Regions from separate parts of the Homo sapiens genome. Here regions 1, 2 and 3 are each reported to be linked to region 4. The links are microRNA targets in miRTarBase. Many come from high-throughput screens and were not tested one by one. Region 4 holds a microRNA gene; each other region holds the end of a gene's coding sequence.

Region 1 (4,068 bases), not on the chromosome of region 4:
CTGGTCAGACAACGCTGTCAAGAGAACGATGGCTGAGAGCAAAGCAGCTAGAGTCTTTAAGAAGAACGAGGCTTCAGCAGCAAAAATGTGTGAATGGAAATGAACTTTAAAGATGTAATACCTATGAAGAGTAATGGGCAAACTGTAGCCACATAATTGTAAAATTCAGATATTCATTTATACCACATTGTTTTATAGGTAATTTCTATCACAAACCAGTGACATTTCCTGAAATCAAGCCTGGTAACACCTGATGTTTATATGATATTCAGTAAGGACTTTTACCTTACTGATTTCATGGAGCTTTTGAAGTTTGTTTTATAATAATTATATAAATTAGTAATGATGTAAAAAAAGTATTTGATATTAAAAGTTTAATATTGATAATGTTGCTGATTGTACCATTTCCTTAGCTTCAGCTGAGTCATAGGCCAGACTGTTGAAATGCTGAAATGAAGAAGGTTGTTGCAGTTTCAAAGTCAGAGGAATCGTGCTTCGGATTTCTTATGTTTTCTAGTTCTCTGTTTTTCCAGTTCACAGTGGGTTGGGGTGCATTCAGTAGTCCATCTTTGGGGAACGGAGGCGTACTTGCCATTGATTCACATGACTACATGAAATTCTGTACTGTCATTTCCCAGATGTTTGGCCACAGAAACTTTTTCCCACTTAACATTTGTTAACAGCCTGCAAAACTAAACTTGTACATGGCAGTGGTTCCCAGACTTTTGTATTTTATGGACCGGTAGTAATATTTCCAAAAATCTGGGGTACTATAAGGTTGCCAATTTACCTTGCCAAGTAATCCGAATAAATCACTGTATTATCACCATTTTTTTCATAAAAGGAAAGGACAATCTATCTCTGAATAAGAGGAGTCCTTTAAACGGAATGAATGTGGCTTTTGGGGGCAAAAGAAACCAAGACACTACATTGTCTTTATTTTCTCCTATCCCAGTGCATTTGAGAACCATGCATAAGGGAATGCTGTGCTACAAAGCTGTGCCCAAATATGAAAACAAAATAGGAAACTTAAAAAGCAATACCCCCTTTAGAAAGTTTTTATTTTCTTAAATGTCATTGAGTTGCTTTGATTCTATTGGATTTTTGGCATTTTTTATGGGATCATCAGTTGGTTCCAAGTATGTTAGATCAGCTAACATCTGCTACTCCAGTAACAGCCTCGTACAACTGCAGGTAGGTTTTCTCCAGACCAATTAGTTTTAATAGAGCAAACTAACAACAGACTGTAGTAGCATGGTTATGGCAACCAGAATCTTCAGAAAGGTTAGGACATTACTTTTTAAGCTGTCAGTGGTATCAAATAACTTACCTAGTTGGAGGCAGATAAAGGATCCCTTACGTTTTTTCCTATAAGGCCTAAATTGAAATTGTTAACCAAGGAAACAGGGTCAGCCTTGAAAAATCAAGGAATTCATTGTACCTAATAACTGAAGTAAAAATAACTAGTTGTTCAACTTTTCCTAAACTCAAATCTATTTTTATAAACAAATGTAAATAATGTTTATATTAGAGTTGAACTGGTTTTCATTTTTATAACTGGTAGACTAGACCTTCCTTAAACTTTTAGAAATAAAATGAAGGCTTCACTGGATTTGTGAGGATAAAATACATTTTCTTTAATTGTCCTAGAGCAAAGTACATTAGTCACCATGTGTTTTTTGTGCCAATGTAAATTGTAATTTACCAAAGAAAAATACATACATTGCTTGGTCTTGCAGAAAAGTTCCCTTGAAAGAACCTTTCCAATAAATAAAACGTCCCAAATTAGCAGTACCTTGGGCTGTTTTTCATGAGTAAGAAGATTCACCATCCCATGTGATCTGTGTGGAAAAAGACCATGTCCTCTTGGTGGAAGACATGAGAGAGCTGAACTGAAGTGGAGGAGGTGGTGCAAGAGGGACCTTCCTGCTCAAGGCCCGCCCAGGCAGCGGAATGGAGTGCAGTGCTTGGCTGCAGAAACCCTTTGTCCCTCACCTATATATACACGGACAGTCAAGTTTGTTGCTCTAACGTAAGGCACAGCGTTAATCCTGTATGGCCAGGAAACTGAGTAGACTCCTGTGTAACCCTGTTTGGAACTTTGCCTTCTTAAAATGATTTTTCAAAGATCTCTTTCGAACTAATTTCTGTAGAGTTTAAACGTGTATTTTATCACCTAATGTTGGGTTGTATTTTCTCCCATGTTGGGAACCCTTAATATTTTCAGGACCCGGAAGAAAAGTTGGTAGAAGCAAGCATTCAGTTTTGAATGTTTGGATTTAAAGTATAGTTTCTGATCCATTTCCCTTTTTACATCATGAGTATATTTCAAAGGAGTAACATACTGGCAACAGCTAGACCAAGTGTTCAGTTATAGCAAATCTGCCGTTTACAAATTCTTTAATCTGTTATGCAAGGAATTCTCATACCCATTTGTCACTTTAAATTACAATGGTACTTTATTTTAATAATCACAAGATTTAACACGTAAAAAAAAAAGATAGCACTAATAAATAACAAAAGTGGAATGCTTATCAAAGTAACGACATAATGTTCAGTTGAGAATCAGTCACTTCAACAGAGTAAAGCTCTAAAGACACCAGACGAACCAATACTTGTTGGAATATGCCATACAACTTTCTTACTGTGGGGATTACAGGGGCAGCCCTGGTTCTGTGTGGTCAGAGTTATAGTCAGACAGATTCAGCACAATTGTGTTTCAGACTAAATTGTTTTTGAGACACGGTCTTGCTCTGTCCCCCAGGCTGGAGGTCAGTGGCACGATCACAGCTCACTGCAGCCTCAATCTCATGGGCTCAAGCAATCCTCCTGCGTAGCTAGAAACACAGGCATGCACCACTATGCCCAGCTAATTTTTGTATTTTTTTGTAGAGACAGATGTTTCCCAGGCTGGTCTCAAAACTCCTGGCCTCCCAAAGTGTTGGGATTATAGGTGTGAGCCACTGCACTAGGCCCAGACTAAATTTTGAAGTTGTGGATCATCTACATAAGATGTCGAGGATGCCCCTCCTGGAATAAATTAAAACCTGACTGACTTCTAGAATTTCCAGTAGCCAATATGGGTGTTCTTACATTCCTGAAAACAGCAAAATGAAACCTAATAGGTGCTGGTATTCACCTCTGATGTATCAGGTTTACTGTGTGACAAGTCTTAATGCTCCTAGGTTTACATTGTATAGGCAGCAGAGTATTTTTAATGTGTTCAAGTAGAATACGGGGAAAATTAGGATCAAATGAGAATTCATTTCTCTAGTGTCAATAACCCTCAACTCCTCAGGGAACAGTTAAGCCATCAAAACTAAAATAGCTTTATATTCAAATGCTTCAGTAACATGTTAAAGTCACTAAAAACTAAATGTGTAATTTACTTTGTAGAGGTAAGAACACACAGGAATGAACTGACAAACAGAACAAATTATGAAAAACGCTAATCCCCTAAGCATCTGCATGTCCAGCCCTTGTGTCTACTGTAGTCTACCCACCCCACTCCAAAAAAAGGTTCAGGTTATATCCCAAAGTGACCTGTTGCTGAATTACTTTCAAATAAGCAAAGTGCTCTGTAGTGTATAAGCTACTCAGGTCTACACATTCTAGAATGATGCACTTCTGTAGTCCTGGCTGTAAAATTTGGAAATCTACTCAGGTTCCGACTCCGTTTAAAACCCTTTCCAATGAACAGAATTTGTGATCCCTGGGTTCAGACAGTACAATTAAAATACCCCAAGAGGTGAAAATTTCATATTTTTAAATAAAAGCCATGGAAGGATTCTTATGGCTAAAAGCTAAATCTGAATTATCCGTGTCTGGCATTGTATAAACATCTTTTTAAGTTCATTTTGCTGGACTTGATTAATGATTTCAGGTTCTGGAGGACTCTTCTGAACTTTTGACACTGCAAAGTTTATCCCATGGGTTAATCCAGCTTGGGTAATACTAGCAACCTGGACCATGGAACTTCGAATCTTGGCAAAGGGAGAGACTGCTCTGCTGCTACTGCTCTCTGAAGGAGAAGGAGTTACATGAAGCCCTGTCTCAAGTTCAAGCATG
Region 2 (4,068 bases), not on the chromosome of region 4:
AACAGATGACTAAGTATGAAATGGCATGTGCAATTGCAGATGCCTTCAACCTCCCCAGCAGTCACTTAAGACCTGTAAGTACATGGCTGTAAAAACCTTTAGATCCATTGCTATGGTATATATTATTGCTGTGTTGGGTAACTTCATTTCTCAGTACTAATCAAAGTGAACTTTGCTTGTATGCTGGCTGTTCATAGTGCTACTTTTCTCTAAATTATCATCTGTAGAGAAGATCATGAGTATTGAAGTTTGTAGAAAATGTATTATTGTCTTGATCATGACAGGCATTTGGTTTATTTTTCCAGGGATGATCAAATCAGATTTCTTACACTAAGAGCAAAAATAAGTAGCAAATATAAAACCTCAAAATGGCCAGGCACAATGGCTCATGCCTGTAATCCCAACACTTTGGGAGGCTGACGCAGGAGGATCCCTTGAGCCCAGGAATTTGAGACTAGCCTGGGCAATGGAGGGAGATCTCATCTCTGTTTAAAAATATATACATATTTAAAAAAAGGTCAGGGGGAACAAAGCCCTCAAAATATAGCCTTTCACTTACTTTTGATTTTTTTGTGTTTATCTTTCTTTAAAGATTACTGACAGCCCTGTCCTAGGAGCACAACGTCCGAGAAATGCTCAGCTTGACTGCTCCAAATTGGAGACCTTGGGCATTGGCCAACGAACACCATTTCGAATTGGAATCAAAGAATCACTTTGGCCTTTCCTCATTGACAAGAGATGGAGACAAACGGTCTTTCATTAGTTTATTTGTGTTGGGTTCTTTTTTTTTTTTAAATGAAAAGTATAGTATGTGGCACTTTTTAAAGAACAAAGGAAATAGTTTTGTATGAGTACTTTAATTGTGACTCTTAGGATCTTTCAGGTAAATGATGCTCTTGCACTAGTGAAATTGTCTAAAGAAACTAAAGGGCAGTCATGCCCTGTTTGCAGTAATTTTTCTTTTTATCATTTTGTTTGTCCTGGCTAAACTTGGAGTTTGAGTATAGTAAATTATGATCCTTAAATATTTGAGAGTCAGGATGAAGCAGATCTGCTGTAGACTTTTCAGATGAAATTGTTCATTCTCGTAACCTCCATATTTTCAGGATTTTTGAAGCTGTTGACCTTTTCATGTTGATTATTTTAAATTGTGTGAAATAGTATAAAAATCATTGGTGTTCATTATTTGCTTTGCCTGAGCTCAGATCAAAATGTTTGAAGAAAGGAACTTTATTTTTGCAAGTTACGTACAGTTTTTATGCTTGAGATATTTCAACATGTTATGTATATTGGAACTTCTACAGCTTGATGCCTCCTGCTTTTATAGCAGTTTATGGGGAGCACTTGAAAGAGCGTGTGTACATGTATTTTTTTTCTAGGCAAACATTGAATGCAAACGTGTATTTTTTTAATATAAATATATAACTGTCCTTTTCATCCCATGTTGCCGCTAAGTGATATTTCATATGTGTGGTTATACTCATAATAATGGGCCTTGTAAGTCTTTTCACCATTCATGAATAATAATAAATATGTACTGCTGGCATGTAATGCTTAGTTTTCTTGTATTTACTTCTTTTTTTAAATGTAAGGACCAAACTTCTAAACTAATTGTTCTTTTGTTGCTTTAATTTTTAAAAATTACATTCTTCTGATGTAACATGTGATACATACAAAAGAATATAGTTTAATATGTATTGAAATAAAACACAATAAAATTAACACTTGATCCAGAATGTTAACTTACCACCCCATCCTAGAATGTTACAGTTACTGTATCTATTTGTGGGAACGGATTTGTTTTTAACTAAAAATTAATAGCTATATAATCTTGTTACATTATACAGTTGACCCTTGAACGGTGTGGGTTTGGGGTATCAACCTTGCACAGTCTAAAATCCACTATAACTCTGGACTCCCCAAATACTTAATTAGTAAAAACCTGCTGTTGACCAGAAGCCTTACTGATAAACATAGTCATTTAACATATTTCTATCTTCTGTGTATTACATACTGTATTCTTAAAGTAGCCTAGAGAAAAGAAAATATTATTAAGAAAATCTCAAGGAAGGGAAAATATATTTACTATTCATTAAGTGGAAGTAGATTATCATAAAGTTTTTTTTTTTTTTTTTTAGACAAGGTCTCGCTCTGTCGCATAGGCTGGGGTACAGTGGTGCATTCTCAGCTCACTGCAACCTCCGCCTCCTGGGTTCAAGCAATTCTCCTCCCTCAGCCACTCGAGTAGCTGGGATTACAGGCACCCGCCACCACGCCCAGCTGAGTTTTGTATTTTTAGTAGAAATGAGGTTTTGTCATGTTGGCTAGGCTGGTCTCAAACTCCTGCCCTCAAGCAGTCCACCCTCCTCGGCCTCCCAAAGTGCTGGCACTACAGGCGTGAGCCACTGCACCTGGCCTGGATCATAATCAAGTTCTTTATTCTTATCTTCATGTTGAGTAGGCTGAGGAAATTAACTGGGGAAATTTTACTGATACCTGAGTCCTACCCTGGGCTTACTGAAATAAATTTTGGGAATTGAGGCCTATTAATTTATTTTTAAATGTTTCCCAGGTGGTTCTAAGGTTGCCAGTCTGGCATTGCATTTGGCAACCACTAAATTAAAGCATTTTGTTTTATATTTTAAGTTACTACATTTCATATAGTGCATAATTAAGTTTCGGAGAGTAAAAAGTGTTGTTATTCTCTAGCCACCCGTTTTTCAACTGTGGAAGAAATGGATGTAGATCAGTTCCTTGCATATGTTTCTAGAGGCACTCTGCATATAGAAGAATATAATCAAAAAACTCACGTGTCCATACTCTCACCATCCGCCCTCACAAAGAATAACATACAATTCTCTGACCTTTTTTTCATTTGGAATTTGTTGTATAATATAAATAATGTCCTTTTTTTTTTTTTTTTTTTTTTTTGAGACGGAGTCTTGCGCTGTTGTCAGGCTGGAGTGCAGCGGTGTGATCTCGGCTCGCTGCAACCTCCGACTCCCTGGTTCAAGCGATTCTCCTGCCTCAGCCTCCCAAGTAGCTAGGATTATAGGCAGCGCCACTACACCCAGCTAATTTTTGTATGTTTAGTAGAGATGGGGTTTCACCATGTTGGCCAGGATGGTCTCGATCTCCTGACCTCGTGAGCTGCGCACCTCAGTCTCCCAAAGTGCTGGGATTACAGGTATGAGCCACCGTGCCTGGCCAAAAATGTCCTTTTTAAAAATCTTCATTTAAAAATTTCATTATTTGCCATGATAGCATAAATAATGCCTGTATTTCCCTTTCCAGATTCCCCAGTTGTCAGCATTTAGCACATTTACCCTATCATTTTCATGCACACTACATATGTATACTATTTTTATTTCCTGAACTATTGAAGAGTAGGTTGAAGATACGATGCTTCATCACCCACTTAGTATATAAACCTCAGTGTATATTTTCTAAAAATAAGGATACATGCCTATATACCCTGTAATATAATCACAATCAAGAAATTACCATTCAATTTCATAAGATCCCATTCAGATTTCATCAGTTGTTCCAGTTTCCTTTATAGGTCTATGCAGTCCAAGATTACTTGTGTGTGTCGCCATGTTGCTTTAGCTTCAATATGGAACAGTTCCTCAGTGTTTGTCTTTCATGAGCTTGATATTTTTGACATTTCTCTGTATAAGAAACCATAAGTTGACATCGATAGCTCCAGTTACAGTCTTGTTCCACAGGGTTTATTTTGGCTCTTCCCATGTTTGTGGCACCTTTCTCTGACAGCAACCGAATTCTCAGTTCTTTTTTTTGAGACAGGGTGTCACTCTCACCCAGGCTGGAGTGCAGTGGCACAATCTCAGCTCACTGCAGCCTCCACCTCCTGGGTTCAAGTGATTCTCCCACCTCAGCCTCCTGAGTAGCTGGGACTACAGGCATGTACCACCATACCCAGCTAATTTTTGTATTTTTAGTTTCACTATGTTGCCTAGGCTGCTCTCAAAGTCTTGAGCTCAAGCGATCCACTCACCTTGGTCTCCCAAAGTGCTGGGACTACAGACATGAGCCACAGTGCTCAGC
Region 3 (4,068 bases), not on the chromosome of region 4:
AGCTAGAAACACAGAAAACCTTTTGGATTGGTGATACTTCAAATAGGACATTACTTCTTAGTAACAGCAAGAAATCAGCTTAATGTTTTCAGCAAGAGACAGCATGGATGATAATGCAGCCTTTCTTTTCCGAAACTTCAGACAGCAGAATTCCAGAAGGGCTAGTCACACCCATGGAAGGCAGCAAGTGTGGCAGAACAAAGATCTAAGCTGACTGCAGAGGCCACTGATGAAAGCTGTGAAATATCTTTCCTGGAAGGCAAGAATAAATTCATCTGGCTTACTACTGTGGTGTCTCCATACATTGTGACCTAGTCACTGCTAGCACACAGGAGCCACACTCACTCTTAAGAGAGATTTTTTTTCTCTGTGGAATTTTGTAGAATAAGCAAACAGAGTTTGGAAGCGTGTTTGTGAGTTACGATAAATGAGAAGAACCTTGAAATTATTTTTAGTTCAAGAAAAACATCCCATTAAGGCCTATTTCTCATAAGTCACATTTTGTTGGCTTCTGGAAAAGCAGAAGATTCCTAGGCTAACATAAGGAAGTCCTCTTCCTAAATATGTATTCTCATAGTCACTTGTTAAGAAAGGGATACCTTTTAAAAAATGCTGAATGCTGATAGATGTTAAATCAAAGGCAAATAATTTTGAAAACGATTTGGGACAGGTACAGTTGTCCTCTGCTTACAATCTTCTCTCTTATCTCAGCCAATAGCTACTTGCTAACTGGATAGTAAAATGACATGAGCATGTATGAGTTTACAGCCTGATGTAATTATGTAATCAATAGCTGATTTACTTCACTCATTATATTTTGGTTAAAGTTGCTCTTGTCGCATGTTTGCATTCTTCCTTGTCAACGATGTCTGGGCATCAGAGGAGGAGGCAGGAAATGTACTTCACTAAAGACCACTGGGAATAAAGAGTGGCCATCAGTCTAGATTGCAGAGGGAAACAATCTCCATGTCAGTATATATATATGAATTACGTGACAGCAGGTCACAGAGAGAACAATGGACCATGAAAGCAAAGATTTGATTTCCATCTGTTAACTTACTCATCTGGGCAAGTTCCTTTTTTTTTTAAACAGGGTCTCACTCTGTCACCCAGGGTGGAGTATGCAGTGGCATGATCCCAGCTCACTGCAGCCTCAACATCCTGGACTCGGGTGATCCTACCACTTCAGTCTCCCAAGTAGCTGGGACTATAGGCATATACCTGGCTAATTTTTGTATTTTTGGTACAGATAGCGTTTCACCATGTTGCCCAGGCTGGTCTTGAACTCCTGGGCTCAAGTGATCATGTACCTCAGCCTCCCAAATTACTGGAATAACAGGTGTGAGCCACTGCACCCAGCTCCTTTTCTGATTTCTGATTCCTACATATAAAATGGGTAAAATATGGATAACACTTATCAAACATAGCCCAAAAGTTGTTTAAACAATGAAATAAAAATGGCTATGAAGCACGTCACATACTGAAACATACTTAAAAAAAAAAAGGCAATATGAAAGAAAACAAGCCACAGACCTTAAATATAAACACCTCCTCAAACACCACAAGAGACAAAAATTTGTAAAGTTAAGGAGGGTAACTTATAAAAGTACAACTTCCCAGTTTATATGAAAATGGTTTAATAATACTGAAACTTAAAAGCTGATAAAATTTATTGGCTACGACTACATTTTTTCTCCAATCACAGCAAATATTATGAGACACTTATCAATGCAAAGCTTTTGATCCTTTATCATGTACTCTGAACCCTATGCACTACTAAATAGGCAATATGATACAATCAAAGGTTTCTTTGGCAGACATAATTATATGTACCAAAACATTAAACTGCGTATTTTCCCTTAAACTTACCTGACTAAAGGCATCTGATCAAAAGACAAAAAGTGAACAATTTTAATAAGTAGTTGCATTTATCAATAAGAGTCTACAAGGTAACAAAAAGTGTAAAGAGACATCTTTTTGAAAATTCATATAAAACAAACCTTCCATGTTATTAGATCAACAAATATAATCACCTGGGTATATTTTATTAGGGAAAAATGACAATATTGATAATAAAAAGAGAAAGGAAAAATGAAAATGCATCTCAGACCAGAATACCATAACAAAACTTTTGTGGAAGCTGCATTTTATTTGAAAATCCACCCATTTTGCTAACATACATTTTAATATTGTAAACAAAAATAGAATCTGCAGAGACAATGCAACAAGAATGCTTAAACTCATGTACAGAATTGCTTTCCTACAATGAACTGTCCTTCTTAAGGCCCCTCTCCACCCAAATGTTAAAGATGTATTTACACAAAGCACCGATCAACAGTGCAGTTTAATTCTTCGTTTACTAAACTCTTGGCTAGACATTAACTTTAAAGATACTATTTCCCCTTATTTAAAAGGTATATGATCATAACATGGCACGAGCCAAAGAAAATGTTCAAGGACTTTGCCCCCCTTCCCTCCCCCTTGTAACACCTTCTAGAGTTTTAGTGAAAAGAAGGAAAGTCTTGAAGTGAAAGCAATTCCTCACATTCATTTTGGAAAGGCCCTAATGTCAAATGGAAAATAATGACATGCCAAGCACAAAGCAGTAAAGATCCTTCCCAATGCACTAATGCTGAATTTAAAATGTAGTGCTTTTCCTAGTCAGTGAACTGTTCCCTGGCAAAATCCTAGGCACAGAATTGACTATAAGGATTAATGCATTTATAATGCTTCCCTAAATCCCACAGAGGCCGAGAATTCTTAAGAGATTCAGACCTATGGACTTGCCTTAAAATATTTAGTGCTCTGTATGTCAGCTGAGAAAAGCATTCTGAATCAGATTCATTCTTGTGGATAAAAATCAAACATACTGTGCACATCCATACTCATTTTCATAAGGAGGTCTGATACAATATTAATGTTATGTAAAATTGATAATCATAAATAAATACAAATACTTAAGGAATGTCTACTGCAAACTGAATATAATTTTTTTTAAAAAAAGAAAAGTTAATTTCAGTTATTGTTTCTGTATTTGTGAGGACTGGAGAAAAGAAAGATAATGCATAATTAGGAATTTTAATTTTGATCCCCCAAAAGAGTCCTGTTGAAATACAGTAAAGGACACAGTTCTTCTCTCCAGGCAGCTTTTCCAAATACAAATTTCACACTTTCCAAATAAGGGCTTTTCTTGATAGGTTACTGATTATGGGTATTAACAGGAGTTGAAAGAATTGAAGGGTTAGTCACCAAAAAGACAGATCTTAGTCTTAAATCATAGCAATTCTTGGCTTTATAAACTGTATTGATACGTTCTCCTATAAACTAGTCCCAATTTCCTTCATGGGCCTTCACTGAGTTACTTGTAGCATTCTAATGGAAGAAGAGAGTTTAAGAGATTTAAGAGACAGCAGTTTGGATTTTGCTGGAAGTAAGGATTTTGCTGCTTGAGCACTTGTCTTTTTGGAGTAATTCCATTTTCTTCCATCAAGTTACATAAACTGTATCTGGAAAAAAAAAGTGGGTATGTTAATTCATTGTATTGTAGGATGTCTTCTCATAAATAAAAATGCTTTGTGGTCTTTACCATTTAACTGGCCCAGAAGTGTTCACAACATGCTTATCACAAACCCTGTTTATAAAACAAAGTCAGTATTATCAACTTATGTGCCAGAAAGCTCAATATTTGACACATATAGGGACTTCCAAATAATGTTTTTTGTTGTTGTTTTTGAGACAGAGTCTTGCTCTGCTGTCTAGGCTGGATTGCAGTGGCATGATCAAAGCTCAATGGCTGGGCACCATAGCTCACACCTGTAATCCCAGCACTCTGGGAGGCTGAGGTGGGCAGATCACCTGAGGTGAGTTCGAGAGTTCGAGACTGGCCTGGCCAATATGGTGAAACCCCGTCTCTACTAAAAATACAAAAATTAGCCAGGCGTGGTGGCGGGCGCCTGTAATCCTAGCTACTCGGGAGGCTGAGGCAGGAGAATGGCTTGAACCCAGGAGGTGGAGGTTGCAGTGAGCTGAGATCGTGCCACTGCACTCCAGCCTGGGAGACAAGAGCGA
Region 4 (4,068 bases):
GCGCGCGCACACACACACACACACACACACACACACACACACACATATACATATATATACCTTGTTACTTACCCCTTCCTCCAATCCAAACACAGACTCAGTCTTGCTCATGCTCCAAGAATTTTTGTAATGACTGGTCAGGAGGAATCCCTCTAAGATGAGGAGATAGGCAGTCAGAAGCCTAGGTGGGCTGGGCGTGAGAGAAAACCCAGGAACCCTGGTTCTTTGGGTCGTCACCACGGGATTGATTATAGTTAGTTTGGAGCTAGAGTGTCTTTGGGGAGATCTGCTATGGTAGATCATTTGATTTAAATGACTGAAATGTAAAAGTTTGAAAGTTTGTGTTTAACACTTAATGCATAATAGACATTGTGCTTTTCACATGCATGATTTCATTTAAGCCTACATCTTATGAAATATGAAATATATTCATCATTTTATTGATGAAGAAATTGAGGCTTAGAGGAAGATTAAGTAACTTTCCAAAGCTTCATGTGAGTGTACCCAAATGCTCTTCAAATAAGGCATTTCCCAGCACAGCTTTTCTTTAAGTGCCTTTGTAATGTTTATAGCTTTTTATTGTAACAGCAGGAAGGTTATACTACAATAGTTTATTCCAGTCCTAATGTTCTATGACTTTGTGTCTTTAGGCAGCAAGCAGGATTTTGAAGAACTGGGACTCAAAGCAAGGAGTCCTCTTGTAGATATACAGTGGCAGATAAAATGAATTGAACAGACACTTTTTTTTTTTTTTGAGATGGAGTCTCACTCTGTCACCCAGGCTGGAGGGCAGTGGCACGATCTTCGTTCACTGTGAACTCCACCTCCTGGGTTCAAGTGATTCTTCTGCCCCAGCCTCCTGAGTATCTGGGATTACAGGCACGCACCACCATGCCTAGCTAATTTTTGTATTTTTAGTAGAGACGAGGTTTCACTATGTTGGCCAGGGTAGTGTAGAACTCCTGACCTCAAGTGAACCACCCGCCTTGGCCTCCCAAAGTGTTGGAATTATAGGCGTGAGCCACTGTGCCTGGCCTGAAGAAACACTCTTGAATGTGTTCTACCTACATGGGAGCTCCGTGGAGCCACAAGCTCATTCCAGGTGTTAGGAGAAGAAATTTGTGTTGGCAGCACATACAACTTGAACAGAAAGTGAGGAGAAGAAATTTGTCTTGGCAGCACATACAACTTGAACAGAAAGTGGGGCAAAGCCAAATGGGTATTCTTACATGAGAATACTGTGTCCTAGGAGTCAGGAATGTTCCCTTTAGTGTCCTCATAATTTTCTTCCATTGTCTTTTTTTGGCAGATAGCTTCTGGAATTATAATTTGTACTTTGCAAAAGAAAATGGGCCATAAAAATTATTTTAAATCAACTAAAGACTCATGAGATTTATTTGGTTACAGTGAATAACCTGGACAAAATGTTGAGAAGAGTTGTTAAAACAAGTTTACATTAAATATACTAACAATTACGTTTGGTTACATATTTGTAAGTGATGGTTATTTAGAAAAACTGCATAGAAATCCAAACCTTAAATATTCTGCAAATCAAATCATTAGCTTTTCTCTTCTCTAATAAAGTAGGGTGACTAGTTCTTGGATTAATCTAACTATAACATTAATGTAGCACTTGATTATCTTATGGAATAATTCTCTATCTCATCTAAGCCTCACAACAACCTTGTAAAGTATTATCCCCATATGGAGGAAGAAACAGGCTTAGAAGTGGAAAGGTAGATTCTCTGCTCGCACAACCGTATTATGTGGCTAAGCTATTGAACTTGAACCTAGATTTGGGACTTCATTTCAAATATGAAATTTTTTGATTAAATCTTTTTATCTTGTATGGAAAAAATATCTCATTAGCTGTCAGATGTTATTTACCCTGCTAACTGTTAAAAATATTTCATTAAAAAAATTCAGCTTCATAGCCTTTCAGTTTCCCTTTAAGAGTCAAATAAAAGTATTAATTTTAAACTGAAGTTGCCTGAACAGAAAATCGTTACCTGGGGGAAAGTACCAGTTTCTAAATCTTTTAAAAAACGTTGCCAGACAATCCATGATATAACTGGAGGTTAGTAGTCCTTCTAATTTTTAACTACAAAAATATTATAGAAATTTGTGTTTAGCCCACATTTCTAACAGTTGAATCAAAGGTGTTTATGAACATTATAATGAACAAGCCAAAACCTGCAATTAAGAATGACATGAATATATTTTCTGTTAATGATAAAAACAAACATGGGCTTGACATTTAAATGAAAATGTTTGCATTTAGGATACTACTGATAAATCTTTTAAATAACCTTACTTTCAAAACTTAGTTTAAGGTTGAACATCCCAGTGACCAGATTATGATTAACAGATTGAAAAATGATAAAGCCTGAAGTCTAAGTTTATCCAGCAGGGTGACTCATGCTTCTTTGTCATCCTCCCACGGCAGCAATTTGTTCCATGTGAATGCTAGTAACAGGCATCATACACTGTTAATGCTAATATGTAGGAGTCAGTTGGAGGCAAAAACCCCTATCACGATTAGCATTAACAGCATACAGCCTACAGCAAGCCTTCAGCACTCAGAGGATGAGGCATAAAGAATTTAAACCACAGATTTCCCCTTCCTGGTTTGTGCCACCTGCAAGAGAGAAAGAAATGTTTGTGTATGCACATGCGGTTATAAAGCTGGAGTGACAGCATATAGTAAATCTGAAAGGAAAATAGTCCATTTTCTGTTGAAAGGAAGGAGCTCATTAAATCCTTGGAAGTAATTTTTTGAAAGTGGTAGAGAAATTGGCAATTAAAAGATGACATTGTTACCTTTAGGCATATTTGAAGACTTTGAAAATTATGTTTTAAATTCTATTCTCTAGTTTTGAATCGGGTACACATATGTATCATCTTCTTTAAATAAAAAACAAAAACCGCTCTTCGGAGTTTTCAAATGCCAAAATGCAAAGAGGAAAGCTTGCATTCTGACACAGTACAGTTTTTTTTTTTTCTGATTTGTACTTCATCTAGGAGCTAGACAATTAAAGGCCCAAATGTTCAAAATAGTCCTTTATGATTTATGAAAATTAAAACCCAATTAACCTGTTTTATAAGGGTAGGGTTCAGGCTGAATTTTTCTTTCTGTAATACATAGTTGAAGTTTTACCTTTATTCTTTCAGGAAATGTGATACAAGCAATGGAGGTTTGCCTACAAACGAATCTATCTGAAAATGTCCCCGTCTACTATTTAGAGATTCCTTTGGGGAAAGCACTACCCAGTGGCTTTGGTTTTGACTACATAAAGGAAGTATGACTTAAAGAGTCCTCTGTGTTTCAAACTACTTGTCTTAGGCAGAGGGTTGATTAAAAAAAAGAACAAGATGAATTTGCTACTTCCTTTTAGAGTCTGATTTTACTCTCTCAGATAAAGTGACATTTCTCCCACAGGTTTCTGATTTCAGTGTTACTATAACAGAACCTAGAAGTTAGAGTATCATTCAAGTATGTGGTCTCCTGCAGTACAAGAGGGGAATCACCTTTTCTTTTATTTAATAATGAAACCAGCTAGATATAAAAATGTGACTAAGTTCAAAAGAAACGTATGAAGTAAAAAATTCCCCAGTGAATATATTTTGACAGGGCAGAATATCGTGGTTTGGAAATTTCCAAACCAAGGAAATATATTATTCTTACTGATAGTATTTTTTTTTAAACTTTACTGTTTTCTGAGATGAATTAGTTGATGATGAAAAAATTTGGGTTAAATGATGTCACTTCAGGAATTCAATTCATTTTACAGAATTTCAGTCAATAAAGATTGTAAAAACAAGGACTTTTTTTCCCCCTTACAGGGTCCTGGACACAGTAAATGCTCAATAAATACATATTAATAATGTAGTGTTAGTGCCACCCCAGCCAATATAACTCGCCCTTTTCTTAAAAGATGTGTTTAATTTGTATTGAAGGTAAATTGCTGGCATACTATTCTACCCATAAATTTTATTCCTGTTCTTTAAAGATAACATATGAGCACAGGTATTAAAATAAATATATTTAGTATACTAATTAGCTTTTTC

Evidence for each region. The annotated mature microRNA hsa-miR-155-5p reads UUAAUGCUAAUCGUGAUAGGGGUU and lies in region 4 at 2,525-2,548, opposite strand. An mRNA with a match to its seed (bases 2 to 7 or 8) in the 3' UTR can be bound and repressed. Matches are read on the target gene's strand: a 7mer-m8 pairs with bases 2 to 8, a 7mer-A1 pairs with bases 2 to 7 and ends in A, and an 8mer does both.
Region 1: the mRNA of INPP5F is a reported target of hsa-miR-155-5p. Seed matches in the 3' UTR shown: 8mer at 3,173-3,180.
Region 2: miRTarBase lists MAT2B as a target of hsa-miR-155-5p. The part of its 3' UTR that is shown has no 7-base or 8-base seed match.
Region 3: miRTarBase lists PICALM as a target of hsa-miR-155-5p. Seed matches in the 3' UTR shown: 7mer-m8 at 2,725-2,731, 7mer-A1 at 2,713-2,719 and 7mer-m8 at 2,628-2,634.

The regions. Positions count from the first base shown.
Region 1 is chr10:119,827,516-119,831,583 of GRCh38, reverse strand. INPP5F (inositol polyphosphate-5-phosphatase F) reads right to left here. Exons shown (of 20, transcript NM_014937.4): 20 at 2,437-4,068. The coding sequence ends at 3,804. MCMBP (minichromosome maintenance complex binding protein) reads left to right here. Exons shown (of 16, transcript NM_001256378.2): 16 at 1-2,144. The coding sequence ends at 110. Among named protein-coding and RNA genes, the nearest start is that of MCMBP, 43 kb to the left of the region's middle.
Region 2 is chr5:163,517,601-163,521,668 of GRCh38, forward strand. MAT2B (methionine adenosyltransferase 2 non-catalytic beta subunit) reads left to right here. Exons shown (of 7, transcript NM_013283.5): 6 at 1-74; 7 at 593-1,754. The coding sequence ends at 763. Among named protein-coding and RNA genes, the nearest start is that of MAT2B, 14 kb to the left of the region's middle.
Region 3 is chr11:85,955,555-85,959,622 of GRCh38, forward strand. It overlaps PICALM (phosphatidylinositol binding clathrin assembly protein), which reads right to left. Exons shown (of 20, transcript NM_007166.4): 20 at 1,621-3,506. The coding sequence ends at 3,492. Among named protein-coding and RNA genes, the nearest start is that of CCDC83, 100 kb to the left of the region's middle.
Region 4 is chr21:25,572,463-25,576,530 of GRCh38, reverse strand. It overlaps MIR155 (microRNA 155), which reads right to left and starts at 2,551; the gene lies at 2,487-2,551. It overlaps MIR155HG (MIR155 host gene), which reads right to left. Exons shown (of 3, transcript NR_001458.3): 3 at 1,363-2,638. RefSeq lists enhancers at 285-334, 727-876 and a silencer at 2,428-2,607.